Regions from separate parts of the Homo sapiens genome. Here regions 1, 2, 3, 4, 6 and 7 are each reported to be linked to region 5. The links are microRNA targets in miRTarBase. Many come from high-throughput screens and were not tested one by one. Region 5 holds a microRNA gene; each other region holds the end of a gene's coding sequence.
Evidence for each region. Region 5 holds the annotated microRNA hsa-miR-6499-3p (AGCAGUGUUUGUUUUGCCCACA, at 1,880-1,901, shown strand). A microRNA usually pairs through its seed, bases 2 to 8, with sites in the 3' UTR of a target mRNA and lowers its output. Matches are read on the target gene's strand: a 7mer-m8 pairs with bases 2 to 8, a 7mer-A1 pairs with bases 2 to 7 and ends in A, and an 8mer does both.

Region 1 (3,141 bases), not on the chromosome of region 5:
GCCACTGCACTCCAGCCTGGGCGACAGAGCAAGACTCTGCCTCAAAACAACAACAACAACAACAACAAAAAAAAAAAAAAAAAAAAAAAGAGAGAGAAAAGCTGGAGTTATCAGTTCACCACTAACAGAATGTTGAGACAAAGCAGATGAAGGGTCGTATCTTACGACTGGGGACAGGAAAGAAGACCATGAAGGTGCTCTCAAGATACAGTGGTCATTTTTGGTCTGGGGACTGGTTCCAGGATCCCCTGTGCATACCATAATCTGCACTTACTCAAGTCCTGCAGTTAACCCTGAGGAACCTGCCTCTACAAAAAGTTGGTCCTCCATATACTCAGATTTTGCATCCCACAAATACTGTATTTTAGATCCACATATAAGTGGACCTGCACAGTTCAAACTTGTGTTGCTCAAGGGTCAACTGTATATGTAGGAAGGAGCAGTACCATTGTGGAAATGATGGGAAGATAAAAGAAAATACAATTGTCACAGAGAGGACAAAGAACATGAGAAAGGAGAACAAACTCAGATTTGACCAAAAGACAATGGCTTGTATTACACTGGTAGAAGCAGCAGCCTCAGAAATTACAGGGTATTTAGGGAAAGTGGCTATTAAAGAAGCAGGTATAAGGGACTCCAAGTCTGGGAATGAAAGAGGGCAAGATTGTAGTAATAAGTGAAGGATCAGTGAAGATTTTAAAAAAAAGGAACTGAGCCATAAATTTTCTTCTTTTTTCAATTTAAAAAAAAGCTTTAAAAAAAGTTACTTATACATAAATACAAAACATATAATACACACACATATTGTTACACACTTTGTTGTTACCATTCTTAAGTACAAATTTTAGTTATTCTTAGTATCTATAGATATATGTCCTAAAGCATGATTCAGTAGCAGCTTTTCCTATCCTTTAAACGTTTTCATACTCTAAGGAGCAAGATTCTCAAAGGTATCTTTATCAATCTCCTTTGGAAAAAAAAAACCCACACACACACACACACACACACACACACACACACACACACAAAAACACATATACACATAAATAACCTCTTTAAAGGCATCACCTTAAATAGATAAAACTCCTTAGTGACTGCTGGAACTTTCCAAGCCATACATTATTTGTTTAGTAAGTCACTATCATGATGAAAAGAAATTCAGTGTTATGAAGTCTATTAAACAGCCTTAAGCTTTCATTTATTCCCTTTGATGAAGCTGATTTGAGAGAAGGACCATTTATATGTTATGAAAATAACAGACACTCCTTTGGATTTCACAGATTATAATTAAGAGAACGCTATTAACTACAGAATACTGATTGCAAAGTATTTCATTTTTAAAGATACTCCTTGAGCCAGAGAAGGGTTGAAATGTTTTCTTGAAGGAAGAGTAGAACCATGATAAAGACTATAATCCCAAGAAGGAAACAAAGTACTTCAAAGTTAGAAAACATGATGTAAGAAAACATTGGAAAGTGGGATCATTCATCTGGGACATATCATTAGAGAAAGATAAAATTGAGAGGTGTTCTTTGCCTTAATTGTGCACGAGTAATAAACTAATCGTGTCTGTACATTTCCCAACAGAATTTGGGCCACCAAATATTTTCACGTACATTATCCCATTGATTCTCACAACAACACTGTCAAATAGTAAAGGGATTCTTCTTTTCTTCTCCATGAAGAAACTAGACTGAGAAAGGTTACGTAACTAGCTCAAGATCATAAAGCAAAGCTGAGTTTGAGACCCAGGTGGGTTCCCAAAACTAGGACTGGAGCTCTTTCAACCAAATAATGCTCAATAGGAAAAGGAGTCAAGGACAAGCTCCAACTGGTAAAACAATCTGGATGAGTTAAGAGTTCAAAAGTTGAGAAACAATGTTGTTAAAGGAAACTAAACAGGTTTCTTGGATAAAATGCTAAGTTATAAGAAGCTCTGGCTAAAGAGCAAGAAGATGGATCAGCTGACTTCTCAGACCACTACTATTGTTACTTTTCTAGAATATTTTTATTTACTCTCCTCTTAAAGTCTCCTTTATTTCCTCCTCCTGATATGATTTTTTTTTTAATGACAACTCCAAAAGAAAGGATGAATAAAAAAAAAATTTGGCAACTCTTGGAACCTAAATATAAACCCTGTTGGCATGTTTACACTTCTTTTTGGATATCAGCTGTATAATCCTTTAGCCAGATTCAGTCTCATTCCTAACACAGTTAAGTGTGCTTTGTAAGGGTTTTCTTTGTTAACTTGCCTCACACATATAAAAAAGAAAAACAAATACACAGTCACATTTCCCAACACCTTTCCCCCACCAAAAACACAGTATAGGGTAGCCAGGTACTTTGAAAAAGTATCATTTTAAAACATAACTATTATTGTAAAAATAAAAAATAAACATGACAAATCAGTCACAAGGCAGGGAGGCAGGAAGTCATACTACAACAAAAAGTCTATGGATGAAGTATCTGCTTAATACTCACACACAGAAAACACTCTCAGAAAATGTTTCTTTAATTTAGTTTAACTAAAATTTCATCAAGGTAGAATGCAGTTTTGTAAAAAGTTCCAAGGATCCTATTACACAGTTGCTAATTAACCTTCAGTTCCTTATTTATACATTTTTTACTTACAGATATAAAAGGAAAAAAAATCCTAGAAATTATTTTAAACAGAACATTATACAATTAATTAAAAGTAGGAATTAGAGTGGAACAATGTGGCTTTAGATACTGATAATTAATAGACAGGATGAATCACAAAATATATTAAGTATTATCATTTTCCAGTCTCTGCATCTCATCTTGTCCCATCTGTCCAAGGTGAGACAAAAGTTTGCTATAGGCTTCCCTGTTTAAGAAAAAAGAAAAGAAAGCAAATATATTAACATTTTCATTATTTTTCATTTCAGTATTTACAAATTAAGTCTGCCCATCATCCATCCATCCATCTATTCAGCCATCCATCCAGCAGGCTTAGCACAACACTTCTTAAAAAGTAATGCTTTATATCTATTGTGAGTAAACCTAGATGTTAAGATGTATTAAAGTATGATTTTTATATATAAAATGTGTGCTAAAAATGACATGTAAAAGTTCATTAACCTTCCGAAATATTATAATGCTCACGGGTAATAAAATGCA
Region 2 (3,000 bases), not on the chromosome of region 5:
GTCTGAGGCGGCGGGAGGGGCTCTGTGTTGAGGAGGGGCAGCAGGTGGGGAACCAGGACTTAACACGGGATAAGAGGTGCAGGCTGGTGTGCTGGGGCTGGGGGAGGTGTCAGGGGCCATCTTTGGCTTAGCAGCTTGGCCCTTGGCCTCTTTCCTTGCAGCCTATCCAGGGTCCCCTTTGTATAGGTTGAATGATCCCGTTTCCGCCGTGAGCCCACTATGATGACCATGGTCACCACACAGTGTGCCACGTGGGTGTGCACGCACACTAATGGTCCTACTGCTTCAGGATGCCACCACCACACCTGGGCACTACACACACACACGCCTATCCAGGCAGCCCCCTTGAAGACGTGGACAATGGGCCTGGAAGGACACCTGGGAATGGGTGTGGATGTCTCCAGAGCTGGTGGCACAGGTAAAAGAACCCTGCGGCGGTGGTCCTCTCCATCCCTGCAGCAAATCAGCTGCCTTGCTCCAACACTCTGGCAAGAACTTGGATTTCAAACTAGTGAAAGAACTAGGGCAAAGGATTGGGACTCTGGAAGAAAACAGGAAAATGACAGAGAACCCTGTTTAAGCGTGGAAGGGACAGGAGGCACAGGGGAACCGGAGGTGGGTGGGCCCTGTCCACAGTGAGGGCACATGCCCAGCGCCCCTGCAGGGCTGCTCATTCCATCCACTCACAGAAACCACCACCACAGCGACCCTCACGTTGCTGCTGCTCTGCCCAGGCTCCCCGAGCAGAGCGATCTTTCAGCTTTAATGCTCCTCCCCTCCCGCACCTCGGTGACACACACAGGGCCCGGTGAATAGAGGACGTTTAATATTTCTGTGCTGGTCAAACGGAACACAGGTGGGGAATACATGGGGAGGGGGCGGAGGGCCCCCTGCCTCTCAGGAGGGGTGGCTTGTGAGGGGTGTATGTGGGGGGTTCTTGGGAAATATCCAAGGAGTCTTCTCAGTAAAGGGGCCAGGCCAGGGGTGTTATGAGCATCCGATACGCCCAGTCCTTGGCCTTGAGTTGGGGGTCCCCCATAGGGGGTCTGTGGAGAGTCTGACTTTTTTCCAGCTCTTTTGCTAGAATCCACACTCCCAGCACGACGGGTGACTTGGTCCTAGAGAGGGGTCTGGAGAGCCCCCAGGAAGCAGCCCAGGGTCAGGGAGAAGGGCTCCCGTGCCCACTCCTGAGGGGGTGAGAGCCCGCTTTCTCCCCTCCTTTCTCCTTCCCCCAGGCTGGGCAGGAGCGGAAGGGAGGGGGGCAGGGCCCTGCCTCCACTGAGCCCCAGGGTCCTCAGGGTGGATGGAGGAGGGGTGGAGAGAGAAGGTCTTGGCCACCAACAGACACTGTAAACTTTGGTTTAAAACAATAACTTAAGTGGAGGGAGGGCTTCCAGCCTGGGGCCGGGGTGGGAGACTGGGAGGGCAGGTGCTGGGGAGGCGACAAAGGAAAAAGCCAACAAAAAGTTTTGGTTTTTGCTTCCGGCATAAGAAAGGTCTTTGGTCATCCGTTTAACTGGTGGGGCGGCGGGGGGAGAGGCGGGCAAGGAAGGGGAGCTGAGGGTGACTGCAGAGGAAGGGGAGCTGAGGGAGGGTGAGAGGACTGCAGAGAGGCCTGCAGGCTGGATGTGGGTGTGGAGCCGGGGTCCAGCCTGGCCTTCCCCTGGGCTCCCGGCCCAGGCCCCGCCTCTGGCCTCAGGGAGAGCTTGGCTCCACCTGCAGAAGCGCACCTGGCACAGACCTCTGTGGGTGAGGCGGTACCAGGCCTCTTCCCATGGGGGCGGCTGGAGGAGCCCCCAGCAAACGGGGGTGGGGGTGGAGGCCTGGCTCAGCCTGGTTCTGTCTCAGGTTGGGGGCGGGTCTGGAGCCAGGTGGGCCTGCTCACACGGACCCCCACAGGGCACACAGACAGTCCCACCCCAGCAGCAGAGGGGGCTGTTTCTTCTGGGGATGGAGGCACAGTTCCTCCACCCAGGCCAGGGCAGGGTGGGAGCTGGGGTGGAGAGTTCTTTCTTCACAGTACGGAAAAGAAGGCGGAAGGGAGCACGAGTTAGGAAAGTGGGGGCCTCTGGCCAGAAAACACGGCCAGAGCCAGGTGCCAGGGGGCCCTGGGTTTGAGGGGTGGCTAAGCCCCGCCTGCGGGTCTCCATGATGCTGAGGGGCCCTGTGGGGAGAGCTGGTGGGGGAGGAGGGCCCTGCTGCTGCTGGTGGTTGGGGGGAGGCAGTTTCAGATGTGGGGAGGGTCTGAGGAGGGGTCTGAACCCTCCGTGTCCTCTACTGGTCCAAGACCAGGGGTTGTGTCCCTGGGGGTGGGGACCGTCCCTGCCCCTACGTGTTTTTGTCAGGTCACACTGGGAGCTGCTGGCCCGGGCCTCCCCGGTCTGAGTCCTGGACTTGCCTTGAGGCTCGGGAGGGGCTGTGGAGTTGGGGGAGATGGGGCCTGGATTCTGGAAGGGAGGGGTCTCACCCCAGCCCTGCCGGTCACTACAGGCCCTTAGGACAGTTCTTCTCCCGGCAGCTCCTCCTCCAGGTCCCTGTCTTCCGGAGGCCCCGAGGCGCTGGGGTTAGGGGCGCCCAGGGGAGGCCCGGGCTGCCTGTCTTCCTCTGCCTCTGCTGGCTCCTCCTTCACCTGCACCTGGTGGCTGAGGCAAAAGTATGGCATGGGCACCAGGCGGCTGTCCTCTGATGCCCTCTGCCCCCTGCCCCCCAAACTCACCCAGAACTCTGGGGCACAGTGGGGTGCCCACAGCCCCCTCCCCAGGATCCCATCAGACCTGAGGGCTGATCTCCCCTAGGGCTCTCTTCAAAGAAAAGCTGGTCCTGGGGCAGAGACTGCTCTGGGTTGGGGAGGAGAGAAGAGGGGAGCAGAGGGGAGATGAGCGAACGGAGGAAGGAGAAGAAAGATAGAAGAGAGGCCAGGCGAGGTGGCTCACACATGTAATCCCAGCATTTTGGGAGGGCGAGGCCAGTGGATCACCTGAAATCAGGAGGTCGAGACCA
Region 3 (3,000 bases), not on the chromosome of region 5:
TGGCCTCCCAAAATGCTGAGATTACAGGTGTGAGCCACGGCACCCCACCAGGAACTTAAATTTTTAACTGCCACTTGCAGCTAGTGTGTACCAAATCGGAGAGCCCAGCCTTATATATTCAAATCCTCTATTGGTCACTCTTTATATGCATTCCAGCTTGTCAATATCCATCAAACATCTGACTCCTACAAAGCAATACTAAACAGTACAACTTTCAGAATGACCATTTAACACCTAGACAGTATTTCTATTCCTGCTTTCCAGAATGTAATTTTTTTTAAGCATCCATAGGGTGGGTCACATTGATAATCACTGTAACTAATACTTTGTCAGCAATCCTAGTGCCTAAATGTGTATAACTGCATTTTTTAACCTAAATGTAAGACTTGATACTTCAACTTTTTGGTTTAGGCCCAGCAGTTTGGGTATTCCACGTGGTTAATCATTTTAAAGCTTGTTTCAATATAGTCTTCCAACCAGACTTTCCAATTTGTGTCACTTACAGATTTGGCACTACCACCATCTGGTCTGTATGTAATCCTTTACAGTTTGCAAGGCACTTTTACATCCATTATATTTAATTTGATTCTTACAACCAACTTGTGAGATAGGCAAGATGTGAAGTCGATATTTTATAGACAAAGCAGCTGAAGCATAATAGGAGCTTAACTGGTGGGATCCATTTATCCATTTTCTCTTCCATGGAGCATCTTGTTGTATTCATCCAAATCCTTGACAGAAATGTTGAAGAGGACCTCTAGAGGCTAAGCTTATCCTGAATTCTTAAATAGCACTGACTGTTACAGTTTAAGCAAGTCAGTTTCACCTAAAAGTGTGATTATCCAACCCACATGTTGCCTTTCTGTTCAAAAAGGATGGTACCAAAGACAGTCACAGTCACCTGGCTTACTGACATAAATATTAATACTAATCAAATGAGTAAAAAGCCCATGAGGATTGGCTGCCACAAAAAATTTTCAACCTGTATCTACCAAGAAACTATCATACCAACTAAGGAAGCCAAGTCTCTCTCTCTTTCAAAACCCTCACGGGGCCATGCTTTATTATAATGGTCTGCCACAGGTCCTAACCCACACTGTATTTGATTATATACAGTCTCATAATTAAGTCATTCCTCTTTATCACACCCAGCACTTAGTCCACTGCTGCCCATGTAGGAGGCACTCAAATTGGTAAAAGAGAAATCTATGCAAGGGAATGATCTTCTGGACCCCCTCCAAAAACAAACTTGTGACTAGAAGAGGCACCAGCCATAGCCACATTCCTACTAACAGGGCTGATTTAAATGCCCTTTTTATTGGCTTGGTCATAGTCTCCAACAGGTGCCAAGGCTTTTGCTAGTTAAACCAGTTTTCATTGGATCATTTTGTTTTCTATGTGTGTTTTGACCAAAAACAAAGATAGGTTCTCTAACAACAGGGAGAGAATATATGAAATAGGAATATGTCTATAAAACGACAGTCTACCAGTAAGGAAAATAAGTGATCCATAAAACAAAACATCTGACTGTAGGTCTACCCAAAGAAAGGAAAAAGGACTAACAAACAAGAATATAGTGCTTTACCATTTACAAATCTTTCACATACATTCTCATTTGACCCTCACAACAACCCTGTGAGGTAGGCATCACGGACATTCTACTCATTAAACAGATGAAGACAGTAAATCTCAGAGTAGTTCACTGATAATGCCCAAGGCTCTACAGTTAGTGAGTGATTTGTATTAATATCAGTCTTTGGCCTAAAAATTCAGCACCCCTCTTCCCCTTATACTTGTCCCACCTACTTCACAGGGATAATGAAGATAAAATGAATTCAAGGCTAGAAAAATACTTTGAGGGAGAAAAGCACTATATAATTATACCTACAAACTATGATTTTCCCCAATATATGGCTCATTCCTCTTCTCATCTCAGCTTGTGTGTGAACCCAGAGTTGTATATTGCCTCTGTCCTGTGCTCAGTAAGCAAATAAGGCAGGCAGGGGGTACAGTGTGATCCTGTTTAAAGTTACATAAATTACAATCAGGGTAACTGCTATTATTAGGCAAATTGAAAAACAGCACAGAAAGGCCAGTGTGCAACTAGGACCCACTAAAGCTCAGAGGAAAGCAATGCAAGATTATCAGACAGGCATGATTGCATAGAAGGAAAATGTGGTGTCAGAGTTCAAACTGGCACACACACACACAGTTATCTAAGGCAAAGTGGTGGCAAAGAAGTTATTTGTTCCATGTCACACAAACAAGAGCAGAAGATTCATGGGAACCCGTACAAAAGCATCTTGTGTCACACAGATCTCTCCAGCTGCCTATAGGGAATATACAGAACAGTGTCACCTTCAAAGAATGACTGTACCTGTGTTCATATCCTGAACTGCACCAAGGAATAGCTCCATGCTAAACTGTCTTGGCTAAAATACAACCAGTGCCATCATTCCTAATCAGACTAATAAACAGAATGTCTTTTAAGGTAATGAGTTAGATGGCTGTGTTTAGGTTTTGTTCAGGATTTACTTTGGATTCTCCTGCTTTAAGACCCAAAGAAAGTTATATTGAGTTTTTATTGATGATTCTATGTGTTTTTAACAGAGTGTGATAGGTGAATTAAACATATTAAAAGAGTTCTATAGCATCTGTTCAGAAAAGATTATATACTATACAAACTATTCAAGTCATACAAAACCATTTTTCATTGTCTTTCAAACTGAGAAGAATCCTATTCAGCACGCTTCTCCTCCTGAGGTGGTTCATACTGAGCAAGCTATGGGGCAAAGACAGAGGAATTTAGGTGAATTTTATTCTAAATTGAGTAAAAAATAGTAAAACAAGGTAACTGTTATATTCAACTTAGTTACTGTCAGTAAATTGTATTAATATCAGTTTCTATAACTATCCATTTTAAATCATTCAGTGATTTAAGATTTAATACAATCAAATCTAATGAAAGCCCTTTTTATATAAACCTTTAAAATTGCTTTG
Region 4 (3,000 bases), not on the chromosome of region 5:
TAGACCGGCCTTTGTAAACAAAATCTATCTTTGGAAGAGAATGAGGAAACTTATGAGAGCCGTAGCAACCAAGTGTTGTTGTAGCAGCCTACATTTATTGAATACTATTTTGTTCACTGCTCTATTTTCATAAGCACTCTGTATGTGGACGATTTTAATCCTCTAAACAGTGTTATGAAGTAGATAATATTAATAGATGAGGAAACTGAGACAAAGATTGGTAACTTGTTCAAGGGCACAGTGGAGCCAAGATTCAAACTCGGGCAGTTTGTGTCCAGAGTACACCCTTTGAAGACCACCAAGCTTATAACTTTTCTCATATATAATAATTTTTGCCCTGAATTACAGAAAGATCTGAAGCCAGGATCGCTCAGGAGACGATGGAGAGAGCTCCTAGCAGAGTTGGGACGGTTCTCAGTGTGCCCCAATGTTGCAGTTGTTTTTCAGCATATTCTGTCTTTCTCCTCAGTCAAGGACCAACCTACCTTTTCTTTTCTAGTGCTGAGGAATGTAAACAAGTTTGCTGGGCCTTGCGAGACTTCACCAGGTTGTTTCGATAGCTCACACTCCTGCACTGTGCCTGTCACCCAGGTGAGGATACATAGTTCCCAGCTTTTGTCCGGACTGTCGGACTGTTGGGGATGCCTGGGAATGGGGATAGGTTTTAATGCCTATCATGGGACCAGTCTTATAGCTAGAGTCAGGGAAGGACTCAGCAGTTTAACTGTGGTGAACAGCTGGAATATACAGGGCCCGGATTTTCTTGGGCCTGGGCAGCCAGTAATTGTCAGTGTCTTTGGGGTACCATTTTCACCTCCATAAGAAAGTAACTGTTACACAGTGCATTGAAACATTTTCTTCCCCCTTCCCCTTACAGACACTTCTAAGATGGTAAGTGTACATGGCAACAAACAAATAAGTATTTTTAACCTGGCCACTTTGGCGAAAACAACCTCAAGTTGACTGTTATATGTGGTGCCAGTCTCCTAAAACTGACCCTCCAGATGTAATGAGCAAAGAGCTTATTCTTATCACTTTTATGACCTGAATGCTGAAGTGCCAGGTTTTGACCAGGGCAGGAGGTATGAATTGAATATCCCTTATCCGAAATGCTTGGGATTTCGGAGGAAAAAACACTTTCAGAAGTGTTTTTCAATTTTGGATTTTTTGGGATTTTGGAATATTTGCAGAATGCACACCAGTTGAGCATTCCTAATCCAAAAATCCAAAATCCAAAATGCTCCAATGCTCATTCGCTTGAGGGTCATATCAGCGTTCAAAAAGTTTCAGCTGTTAGGGATGCTTGGCCCTTACAGGAGAGGAGGAGCATCTTTGGCTCCCGATGAGCACTTTTCTCCACGTGCTTTCCGTCTCCTGGTTCTGAAGCAAAGCAAGAAGCTTAGCTGAAAGGAGTGGGTAGTAGAATTTGGGTGCCAGTTTCTTGATGGAGAGAAGAAAGGTAGCTCTCCTCTAAGCCCACCCTTTGATGTCTCAAGGTGAGTTTCTTCTCCCAGGAGGCAATTCTTGATGAATCTGTAGCACTCACTGGTAGTTTCTGTGTTAAATGCATTCATAGGTAAAAGTGATGTTCAGCAGTGCCTTGCCACACCCAAAATCATTTCTCAACTTTGATTGTTTTAATGAGTAATAATATCATTTGGGATGTCCTGGTTTTGCATGGTGTCTGGGTTAGCTGACATTGATACACCTCATAAGGTTGCTCATGGACAGCTGTAGGTGTTCATGGTTAACTTTTATTGTGCCCTTACTGTGTGTCAGGGCACTGTTTTAAGTGTTTTAGATGTATTAACTAAGATAATCCTCATCTGCTTTTCTGGATTTGTTACTATTTTTCCCATTTTACAAATGAGGAAATTGAGGTTCAACAATGTTTAACAATTTGCCTGACAGTTATTCGTGGAGCCAGAATTCACATGTAGATATTCTGGTACCAGAGTCCTCACTTTGAACCACTCCGCTTAATACAGTATCCTTTCGATAGCATCTAAATTGGTGTTTTGTTTTGTTTTGTTTTCAACTGTTATTAGTAGGCAAAGCCTTCTTTCAAAATAAAATCGACATGAAGCCTGTGGGATTTAGCAGACTGAGGCAAAGCTTCCCTGGTTGCTTTGGAATGGGAGGCCTGGACCTGCTGGCTCTTTGCCCTCCTGACACATCATCCCTTGTTTCCACAGCACACTCAGCATTGGAAGCACACTGCAGACGGTGTCTCATTAAAGCAGTAGCTCCCTTGAACCCACAAGTTAAAACGCCAGACTTTTATTTATTTGTTTATTTTTTCTGAGTTCTTATTGGCAGACTTCAGAATGAGGTACCTGAGGAAATATAGAAACCTCTGCCTTAAGGTTGATTTTACTAAATGCTCTATTTTCTGGTGCAGTTATTGACTGTCTTATCTCTTTTGTCAGGAATGTCTTTTTTAATTAGAAGACAGGAAGAAAACAAAAACCAGACTGTGTCCCACAATCAGAAACCTCCGTTGTGGCAGAGGGGCCTTCACCGCCACCAGGGTGTCCCGCCAGACAGGGAGAGACTCCAGCCTTCTGAGGCCATCCTGAGGAGTTCCTGTTTGGGGGTGTGAGGGAAAATCAGCGCGGATTTTAAAAAGATGGCTGTGGCCTGCCCGGCGTGGTGGGAGGGGAGCTGGTTTCCTGGTGAACTTTCTAAAAGGAAAAATAATTTTAAGTAAAGAAAAAAGAAAAAAAAGGAAGACTAAACAGAAACCAGAACTGAAACATTCACCTGGTAGCAAATGACACATGCACGCACACACACATACACGCACAAGCGCCAGTGCGCACGTGTACACAGAAAAACAAAAGGACAAGCTTTCTGTGAAACAAAATATTTACTTAGGGATAATGTGGGGATTCACATGAATTAAATAGCTGCAATTGGAAGAAGAGGGTCAGGGTCATTTGTTCAGGTTTTCTATTGTTTTGTCCTCTCTTTCCTCTCCTACCCTTCCTTCTCTTTCTC
Region 5 (3,141 bases):
GATAGGAGTTGGTGGAGTGGATGTGCAGTTAGAAAGAACAGAGACGATTCAGGGGTGATTTCTAAATTGTTGGCTCCCATGAAGACTTCGGTGGTAGTGCATTTATGAGACTGGAAAGGCCCAGACGGGAAGGCAGGACAGGTTTATGGGCTAAACCGAAGCTCTGTTTTGCACATTATTTCCCAGTTGTTTGTGAGACATCCAAGCAGAGGTGTCCAGTGGGTAGCTGGGAATTGGAGTTGGCAGCTCAGAGGATTGGTAGATGGCCCTCAAAGCCAAGAGCATGGATGTGATTGCCTAGGGAGAGATGAGAGAGAATGGCTTCCTGACCTCTGTATTCTCAGACCCAGGCACACGTCCTGCCTAGACAGGAGCTTAGTAATGACTGGCATCATCACCATCAATTGCATTGGTCCCGTACTTCCACTTCCATGCACTGGGAGGCACCATAGGCCAGCAAAGAAAAACACAGGCTATAGACACAGATAGGTATTCAGATTCTGCTCAGGCCTTATCTGCTGCTGTATGACCTTGGGCAAGTTACTTCACCTCTTTGAGCCTCAGTTATATTTTTTGTAGGATGGGTGACTTGATAGTACCTATCTCATAAGAAGGATAAACTAGGATAATGTATTTACAGCATTATCATAGTTTATCTATGATAATGACTAGCATTGTACTCAGTTAATGTTAGCTATGTATTATATATAATCGGTAGTAGTAGTATTGTTGTAACTAATGTTAGCTATACATTATAATTAACAGTAGTGTTAATTATTATTGTTGCTATTAATATCTCTTCGGTGTTATGCATGACTTCCAGCAGTAGGTGTAATCTTATCAACTTTCTTGTACATTAAAAGTGTTGGAGTGCAGGTGAACAAGATATTACTACAGGGAAAATTGTGGAGACCCTCGTTGACAGCTGAGGAAGTGATAACATCACTGAGGAGAAGAAGGCAAGCCTGTCCTTTCTAAGTCAGGCAGGAAGTTGCAGGGATGTGTGGTGAAACATGAAAGGAAAATGCGTTTATGATTTACATTCTTTTCCCTACTTAAGTGAGGTCCTGTCACCCTCACGGCTTTTCACAGTTCTGACATTAACTGCAACCCTGCGCGTGCCAGCCCATCAGTGAGGTCAGGCCTGCTTCCCTGCCCACTTGCTCCAGCACCAGTGACCCCGTCTGTGCTGTTGAACACACCGCCTTCATTCCTACCCCAGGACCTTACACTTGCTGCTCCCTCTGTCTGTCGCCTCTTCTTCTCATCCCTCAGGACTCAAATGTCACTCCACAGAGACTCCTTCTCTTCTACCTGATCAAAGTTAGGTCTCTGTTTATTTCCTTCCCAGCATTTTATCCAAGTTATTTGGTAACTTATTTATTGTCTCTTTTCTCCTGGCCACAGCAGAAGACTTCGTTGACTGACTAGAAGGACAAATCCCGACTCCCACTCCAATCGCATAGCAAAAGGGAATCCCAAGGGGAATTTTCGTAGGCTGAGCAGGGTGCATGGTGCATCAGAATTGCTGAGACATCTGAGGGCGCCCTTGAGGACAGGGACAGAATGAGAAACTTCATGAGGAAGTTAGCCCAAGTCTATGGCTGGAGAGATTTAGGAAGAGGCTCAGAGAGATGTCACATGAGGAAACTGCATTGTTTTACTGCATGGTATAGGATGTAACTCCCTCCTTCAATCTCTACAAAACCTTCAGAAAATCTTTCTTTTCTGTCAGTGCTTTTGGAGTTAGGTTTTTTTTTTCTAAATGCAACAATGCGCTGAGCCAGCCCTCAAGTTGGGCGTGGGGCAGAGAAACGTAGCTCCACAAGGAGGCCCAGCCTCAGTCGGGCGCAAGAGCACTGCAGTTCTGTTGGGTGACAGCAGTGTTTGTTTTGCCCACAGGCGTCAGACAGTGGCATCCCTCCCCTCTCGTCTTTGACGTCTGTCCGTGTCCATGTCACAGAGCAGAGCCACTATGCACCTTCTGCTCTCCCACTGGAGATCTTCATCACTGTTGGAGAGGATGAGTTCCAGGGTGGCATGGTGGGTAAGATCCATGCCACAGACCGAGACCCCCAGGACACGCTGACCTATAGCCTGGCAGAAGAGGAGACCCTGGGCAGGCACTTCTCAGTGGGTGCGCCTGATGGCAAGATTATCGCCGCCCAGGGCCTGCCTCGTGGCCACTACTCGTTCAACGTCACGGTCAGCGATGGGACCTTCACCACGACTGCTGGGGTCCATGTGTACGTGTGGCATGTGGGGCAGGAGGCTCTGCAGCAGGCCATGTGGATGGGCTTCTACCAGCTCACCCCCGAGGAGCTGGTGAGTGACCACTGGCGGAACCTGCAGAGGTTCCTCAGCCATAAGCTGGACATCAAACGGGCTAACATTCACTTGGCCAGCCTCCAGCCTGCAGAGGCCGTGGCTGGTGTGGATGTGCTCCTGGTCTTTGAGGGGCATTCTGGAACCTTCTACGAGTTTCAGGAGCTAGCATCCATCATCACTCACTCAGCCAAGGAGATGGAGCATTCAGTGGGGGTTCAGATGCGGTCAGCTATGCCCATGGTGCCCTGCCAGGGGCCAACCTGCCAGGGTCAAATCTGCCATAACACAGTGCATCTGGACCCCAAGGTTGGGCCCACGTACAGCACCGCCAGGCTCAGCATCCTAACCCCGCGGCACCACCTGCAGAGGAGCTGCTCCTGCAATGGTAAGTACTACATCTTCCCTAGGGACGAGCAGCACTGCTGGGCTCAGCCCGCCTGACTCTAAGCATGGAGATTCCACTGAGGCTCTGTGGGAGAGTTCAGGGAAGTTTTAATAAGCCCAAAGGCCACCAATCACCATAAGACGGCTAGTGGCCTCACAAAATCTAGTTATGGAATAATACCCAATTCTCAGCTCCCTTTCGAGATTTAGAAAATAACAGTAAGACTACAATATGTGGTTTAACATCATGGCTAAGAGCATAGGCTGTGGCTTCAGTCTTCATGGGTTAAAATCCCAGCTCTACCCCTTACTAACCAGGCGACTTTAGGAAAATTAACCTCTCTGTGCCTTTGAGCTGGGCTGCTGTAGGAATTACATCAGTACTATGTATCAAGTGCTTGCTTAGAACAGTGCCTGACATATAGAAAG
Region 6 (3,141 bases), not on the chromosome of region 5:
CCTAAGCAGCTCTCTTAACTTTATAAAGCCTCAGTCTCCTCTTCGGTAAGTGGAGAGGCTAACGCCCGCCCCCACGAGCATTAACTGAGGGAAGGGGACCTGCACACCCTGGATGAAGGTGCTCCCTGCTAGCTCCCGTCTCATGCAGTAGCCAGCATTGCTGGCACATCCCGTACTCACAACAGCATATCATTTTCATTAAACAAACTGCTATGATGGGCACATTTGCCATTGTCTGTGGGGCATCCTGGGGAAATGATCCCAGCTTGGTCCTAGGCTGGCCAGGCAAAGAGGAAGTGTAGCCAGATGGACAAGGGACTGGGAGGTGATGCATAAGAGTCCTTGCCTGCCACGCATGCCCCATTTCCCCACCCCCTCAGTCACACCCAACTCTTCCAACTGCCTTGAGCCATCGAACTCCCTCTGCCTTCTGAAGCTCTGAAGACACTGTATCACTTCTCTCCAAACCCCATGGCCATGACCCACACTCAAGTCCTCTTCCACAGCTCCTCCTGGCCTCCCTGCAGCTGCTCTAGCCCCCTCAAATGCATCCTTCTGCAACGGACTGGATTGAAGCTGCGAATAAGCTTATCTGATTTTCCAGCTTGATTTCCAGCTCACTCATGAGACAGAGTCCAAATCCTCCGATCTACCATTTTGTGGTCTGGACCCAGCCCATCTCCTAGCCACCTCCTGATCACAGCTTCAAATCTTACAGCAAACAATCCAAGCCACCTCTGCCCATGCATCTCCCCTGCCTGGAAATCCATTTCCCTGCAAGGAGGGCGTGTGTTGCCCTAGAGTGCCCAGGATCCATTTCCTGTTCCCCCAGTAATGGAGTGCCCGCCCCAGCTCTCAGAGCTGGAGGATACTGGAGGGCTAACCCATTTCTGGGTTTAGGGGGAGCTTAAGACTCAGGCAGGCAGGTTCCTTTCGCTTTTTTAATGGAACGCTGTGGCTGCAACGAGCATTTTCCAGTTGGCCACAGCGCACCCCCACTTTGTCTTATTCCAGTTCCACCCATTTATTTTATCCGAATAGGTCCTGGAGGCACCGAGTTTGCAGCTCCTGGTACCCTCTCCTCACTTCTGCTCTGTCAGGCCCCAATGCCTGCCCAGATCCCAGATCCCAGTTCCCAGATCACCCCGGGGCTCAACTTTCCTCCCTTGATGCCCAGTGGAACCCCTGGTCCCATGGGGCTTCAGTTTCCCCAGTTCAGGCATAAGAAGCTGGGGTTCATCTGAGCGTGTCCATGTTCCCCCTGGAGGAAGGACGGGAGCAGGCAGGGTGGAGCTGGGATTAGAGGGGACAGGGCAGCTGCAGGTGGCACCTCTGGGCTGTGTCCTCTTGTAGCAGGACGAGCCACAGACAAAACTCCTCAGGCACCGGATTAAAGAAGGAAGAGGTTTATTTGGCCAGGAGCATTGGCAGACTTGCATCTTAATAGCTGAGATCCCTGAAAAAGAAATTCTTGGCCTTTTTAAAGGCTTACAACTCTAAGGGGTCCACGTGAAAGGGTCATGATATCTCAAGCAAGCGGGGAACGTGACTGGGGGCTACACGCATCAGCTAACAGAGCAGAAAGTTTTGCAATGCTTTTTCATACAATGTCTGGAATTTACAGATAACACAAGTAGTTTAGGTCAGGGGTTGATATTATTATTATTGTTACTTTTTTTTAACTACCAGGGCCGGGTGGTGTCGCCAAGGTCTTCTGGCTATTTATCTTACTTCTGTTTTGTTTTGTTTTCTAACTTTTTGCTTTCTCTCTTTCCTCCTGTCTTGTAAACTAGGCAAGGTGGGGGGAGGAGGGCAGCAGGAGTAGTAGTGGTCTCCTTCTTACTGTGGGACTGGCCCCTTTGGTTTAGGGTATCACCAAAGGCAGTGTCTAGGCCAGCCCAGTGTCTCTGCCCAGCAAACCTCCATCTGCTGTGCACTCACAGCCAGGCCATGCTGGTGTTTGGTACAGGTTGGGTGCATGAAGGATGAAGGTTTTGGCCTGTCTGGGGCTTTTGCCTGCCTTTCTTCCTTTCTTTCCATCCTTCCTTTCCCTCCCTCCCTCCCTCCCTCTCTCTTTCTCTCTTTCTTTCCTTTGTTTCTTCTTTGGAGACAGAGTCTCGCTCTATCACCCAGGCTGGAGTGCAGTGGCACCATCAGCTCACTGCAACCTCCACTTCCTGGGTTCAAGCGATTCTCCTGCCTCAGCCTCCTAAGTAGCTGGGATTACAGGCGCGTGCCACCACACCCAGCTAATTCTTCTATTTTTGGTAGAGATGGGGTTTCACCATGTTGGCCAGGCTGGTCTCAAACTCCTGAACTCAAGTGATCTTCCCGCCTCAGCCTCCCAAAGTGCTGGGATTACAGGTGTGAGCCATCGTGCCCGGCTGTCCCAGGTAACTTCTGACATTTGCTGACCCCTCACTATGTGCTCATTATCACCGCAGAACCCCATGTGGTTGATCCTTTATTAGACCCATTTTACAGATTAGGAAACTGAGATGAGCAGAGGTGAAGTCAGCCCTGACAGGTCACAGGAGCAGCAGGTGGCAGAGCCAGAGTTGGGCTCAAGCTAGTGCCAAATGTGCCCCATTGGCCACTGACCCTAAAGATGTGTGACCCAGAGGGTCCTGAGGAGCCACGTTAACCCATGGCCGGTGTCATCCTCTTCCGGTTTAGGACTAGTGGATTTTGGGCACTGGAGCCACCTCTTTGGCAAACAGCTTGAGGGAGAAATCAAGGGCTGGGGCCGCCTGGGTCAGCATCCCCATGGAGATGACGTCTATGTGCGGCCCGCAGAACTGGGGGAGGTTGTCCAGGGTGATGCCCCCACTGGCTTCCACAGCCACACTCGGGAACTGGGCCTTCAGCACGGTGGCCGTGGGGTGCAGCTCCTGCGGGACACAAGCCAAGGGGAGGTAAGAGCCCACCACAGATCCCTCCCCGGAGGCAGAGCCCACCTTACCTCTGGCTTGAAGTTGTCCAGCAGGACAAGGTCGGCACCAGCCTCAGCTGCCTGCACGGCCTCCTGCAGGCTGCTGCATTCCACTTCCACCTTCAGAGTGAAGTCAGCCGCCTGTCTGGCCGCCCGCACCGCCTGCTGGGCAGCCGGGAGGACAAGGGTGAGGACTGGGCCCAGCACCT
Region 7 (3,135 bases), not on the chromosome of region 5:
TCGTGCCCAGCTGTGCTGAGACCTCCTCACAGCTGCAGCTTCTGACCGCCTTCCTCTGCCCGGGATGTGTAGGTGTCTCTGCCCCGCCGCCCTGCGCCCCCAGTCAGGTCAGGACCCCCAGTGCTTGTAAGATGTCCACATGGGGATGTTGAGTGGGGTGGGGCCAAGAGCACCTGGGGCACTGTGCTTGTGGGGGCAGCTGGGGGCATCCAGGAGCAGAGGACTTGCCAAACTCTGGGACTGACGTCCAGCTGTCAGCCAGAGGACCCCAGAAGAGAGTGGGAAACAGGCTGCGGGGATGTGAGGAAGGTCCCCAGGGGAGAGCGGAAACAGGCTGTGGGGATGTGAGGAAGGCCCCCAGGGGAGAGCGGAAACAGGCTGAGGCCAGCGGAGTGGTCACTGCATCCCGGCCAGCTGTGACGCAGCAGGTGGGTGGAGTAGGGCTTGGGGGCATCTTGGTCTTCAAGGTCCACCCAGATACCAGCAGCCCATGAGGCCTGGGCCAACTCACTCTGCAGCCCCGGATGGGGGACAGGGAGAGAAGTTTGGAAGTCGTGGGTGGCAGAGCCTTCCCTGGGCCTGAGGGCCTTGTGGATCCCCCAGAACTCAGGGTCTAGGTCCCTGCTGGACACTTGGAGCCCGCCCCACTCCTCAGCCTCCGGGACTTTGCCCTTTTCCAGAGCTCCTCATCTGCAGGATGGAGCCAGGGCCCTAAGGAGGCCCAGGTGTGCCTCCGAACAGGCACAGCTCAGCCCCAAGGGGCTGCCCACCTTGTAGGGCCCAGTGTGCTGGCAGGACCTCGAGACACCACCAGGCCAGGGCCCTTACTCACCGGGAGAGTTCAGGACCAAGACGGTGTGGTTTGTGGCCTGGGGCCACACAGGGGACCAGAAAGCAATCTCCACGGGCGGTGAGGGGCACTTGTACTTTTATCACGGACAACGTGCCCCCATCCACATCCACAAATCAGTGCTGTCCAGGCCAAACCCAGTAGTCCCTGTCCAGCTGCTGCCCTCCGAGGGCCTCGCCCAGGCTTCTGTCACATTGTCACTCGCCAGGACGATGTACAGCAGCTGTTCCCCTCTTACCTGACGTTTAAAAGCACATGCCAGTTGTAAACACTTACAACAAGGGAGAAACGAGCAAGGGGAAAGTGAAACTCGCTGGGGACGCAGCCGCAGGACCACGCTTCTGTTCCTGTTGGGGTGCCCGGGTGGGTTTCACAGGTCGCCTCCAGTTCTGCAGGCTGAACCCGTCTGCCTGGGCACCCCGCACTGCCTGCCTCCTGGGCACTCTGGGGCGACATGGAAGGAATTGCACTTGTCTCAGGTTTCATGCACGCAGTCAGGAGTCTGCACCAAGAACGGTCCATCAACGCGGGAGTCCTCCCCGGGAGGGGCTTCCGTGCCTCCCATTCTGGGCACTTCCAGACCTTCTGCAAGAAGTGCTGTCCTTGAGTCATTGTTTTGTCCCGAGGCTGCTGCGAGCAGGGGGACAGGTGAGCACGTGTTGGAGGGTGGGGACCTGCGGGACAGCTTCAGTCCAGGCACAGCCGCAGGTCCCGGCTGCCCTGCTTTCCCTGGCCCAAGAAGAGCAGCCCTCAGCAAGCTGTGGGTACAGTCCCGGCTCACGCACAGCCTAGAGCGCACTGCAGGGCCCCAGCATCCTCGCCTTCATGTTCACCTTTGTTCCCTCCTGCTTTCCAGCTTTGGAGTTCTTGTTAAGAGGGACTTGAACCACAACGCTATAAACACACCTGCATTCCCTGTTTTCTTTTGTACACACAAAGCTTACAACCTTTACTGTTTCCAACTGGAAAACCAGTTTTTCCAACCCCTTTTAAAAAACAAATGATCCTTTTATCGTACGCCGAAAGCCCTACCCATGACAAGCCCACTTCTGCATTTGACTCTGTTCACTGACCCTTCGTTTCCTTCCTAAACCGACTCTTTCGGTAACTTTCAGTGAAGAGGTGGCTTTAATAAATATATTCTCAGGGCCGGGTGCAGTGGCTCATGCCTGTAATCCCAGCACTTTGGGAGGCCGAGGCGGGCGGATCACAGGGTCAGGAGTTTGAGACCAGCCTGGCTAACATGGTGAAACCCCATTTCTACTAAAAATAGAAAAAATTAGCCGGGCGTGGTGGCGGGTGTCTGTAATCCCAGCTACTCGGGAGGCTGAGGCTGGAGAATCGCTTGAACCCAGGAGGCGGAGGTTGCAGTGAGCCGAGATTGCGTCATTGCACTCCAGCCTGGGTGACAGAGCAACACTCCGTCTCAAAAAAAAAAAAAAAAAAAAAAATATATATATATATACACACACATATGTATATATATATTTATATATACGTATATGTGTATTTACATATATACGTACATATATATATTTATATATATTCTCCAGTAATCTCCAGAACCTTTGTGTGGGTCAGGGTGAGAGGTGCCACCAGGATGTAAACAGAACAACTGAGTCCTCCAGGTAGGAGCCAGGTGCGATCAGCAAGACCGCGAGTGTGGGAGTCAGAGGTGCCTCCTCAAAATGCATCCCCCGTCTGTGGCATAGCACACAGGCCCCGGGGCCCCGTGGACAGGGCTGGTCCCAGCGAAGGCCGGCCTGGGGTAGGGGGGTGGGACGCCAGAGGCTGCCCGCAGCAGGAAGCTCCCGCAGATGCCAGGGCCTCTTGTGCCACTTGGCAGAGACCCCAGAAGGAGCCAGGGGGCAGCATCAGAGCCTGGGGCCCGGACAGGGGTGCCCAAGGGCACAGCAGCTGCAGGCCATTGGCAAGGCCAGAAGACGTTGAGTAGAAAGCTGGGGGCGCATGGAGAGACCCCGAGAAGGGGCTGTGCAGCTGGGGGTCCTGCATTTGCCGTTTGTGTTTCATGCGGCGATTCTGAAACCAGGTTTTTATCTGTAGGAAAAGCAAGATCAGAACAGGGGTGAGACTAGGCCACCAGCCCACCCTTGCCCACCCCTGCCCACCCCAGCCTGCCCGGCCCACCTCACCTGGACCTCTGAGAGCTGCATCTCCCTGGCCAGCCTCTTCCGCTCCAGAGGGCTCAGGTACTGGTGGTGCTGGAAGACGCCCTCCAAGGTGCGGACCTGCTCCATGGTGAAGGCTGTGCGGACACGGGGGGC

Region 1: the mRNA of MMS22L is a reported target of hsa-miR-6499-3p. The part of its 3' UTR that is shown has no 7-base or 8-base seed match.
Region 2: miRTarBase lists FOXP4 as a target of hsa-miR-6499-3p. The part of its 3' UTR that is shown has no 7-base or 8-base seed match.
Region 3: miRTarBase lists MYCBP as a target of hsa-miR-6499-3p. The part of its 3' UTR that is shown has no 7-base or 8-base seed match.
Region 4: the mRNA of TNPO3 is a reported target of hsa-miR-6499-3p. The part of its 3' UTR that is shown has no 7-base or 8-base seed match.
Region 6: miRTarBase lists QPRT as a target of hsa-miR-6499-3p. Seed matches in the 3' UTR shown: 7mer-A1 at 2,141-2,147 and 7mer-m8 at 1,882-1,888.
Region 7: miRTarBase lists VENTX as a target of hsa-miR-6499-3p. Seed matches in the 3' UTR shown: 7mer-A1 at 2,217-2,223 and 7mer-A1 at 2,005-2,011.

Annotation. Positions count from the first base shown.
Region 1 is chr6:97,144,040-97,147,180 of GRCh38, forward strand. MMS22L (MMS22 like, DNA repair protein) reads right to left here. Exons shown (of 25, transcript NM_001350599.2): 25 at 1-2,848. The coding sequence ends at 2,767. Among named protein-coding and RNA genes, the nearest start is that of MMS22L, 140 kb to the right of the region's middle.
Region 2 is chr6:41,598,431-41,601,430 of GRCh38, reverse strand. FOXP4 (forkhead box P4) reads right to left here. Exons shown (of 17, transcript NM_001012426.2): 17 at 1-2,642. The coding sequence ends at 2,495. MIR4641 (microRNA 4641) reads right to left here and starts at 2,708; the gene lies at 2,643-2,708. RefSeq lists enhancers at 2,023-2,606, 2,607-3,000.
Region 3 is chr1:38,861,933-38,864,932 of GRCh38, forward strand. It overlaps MYCBP (MYC binding protein), which reads right to left. Exons shown (of 5, transcript NM_012333.5): 5 at 561-2,782. The coding sequence ends at 2,738. All of the region lies in intron 1 of RRAGC-DT (RRAGC divergent transcript), which reads left to right. GJA9-MYCBP (GJA9-MYCBP readthrough) reads right to left here. Exons shown (of 3, transcript NR_037637.1): 3 at 558-2,782. Among named protein-coding and RNA genes, the nearest start is that of RRAGC-DT, 3.5 kb to the left of the region's middle.
Region 4 is chr7:128,954,815-128,957,814 of GRCh38, reverse strand. TNPO3 (transportin 3) reads left to right here. Exons shown (of 23, transcript NM_012470.4): 22 at 500-591; 23 at 2,430-3,000. The coding sequence ends at 560. Among named protein-coding and RNA genes, the nearest start is that of IRF5, 18 kb to the right of the region's middle.
Region 5 is chr5:151,520,848-151,523,988 of GRCh38, reverse strand. It overlaps MIR6499 (microRNA 6499), which reads left to right and starts at 1,841; the gene lies at 1,841-1,902. FAT2 (FAT atypical cadherin 2) reads left to right here. Exons shown (of 24, transcript NM_001447.3): 19 at 1,903-2,713. It also overlaps a transcript of SLC36A1 not described here. RefSeq lists an enhancer at 1,836-2,005.
Region 6 is chr16:29,696,949-29,700,089 of GRCh38, reverse strand. It overlaps QPRT (quinolinate phosphoribosyltransferase), which reads right to left. Exons shown (of 4, transcript NM_014298.6): 3 at 2,963-3,094; 4 at 1,391-2,891. The coding sequence ends at 2,679. Among named protein-coding and RNA genes, the nearest start is that of QPRT, 19 kb to the right of the region's middle. RefSeq lists a silencer at 463-637.
Region 7 is chr10:133,239,705-133,242,839 of GRCh38, reverse strand. VENTX (VENT homeobox) reads right to left here. Exons shown (of 3, transcript NM_014468.4): 2 at 3,004-3,135; 3 at 912-2,908. The coding sequence ends at 2,534. Among named protein-coding and RNA genes, the nearest start is that of VENTX, 3.4 kb to the right of the region's middle.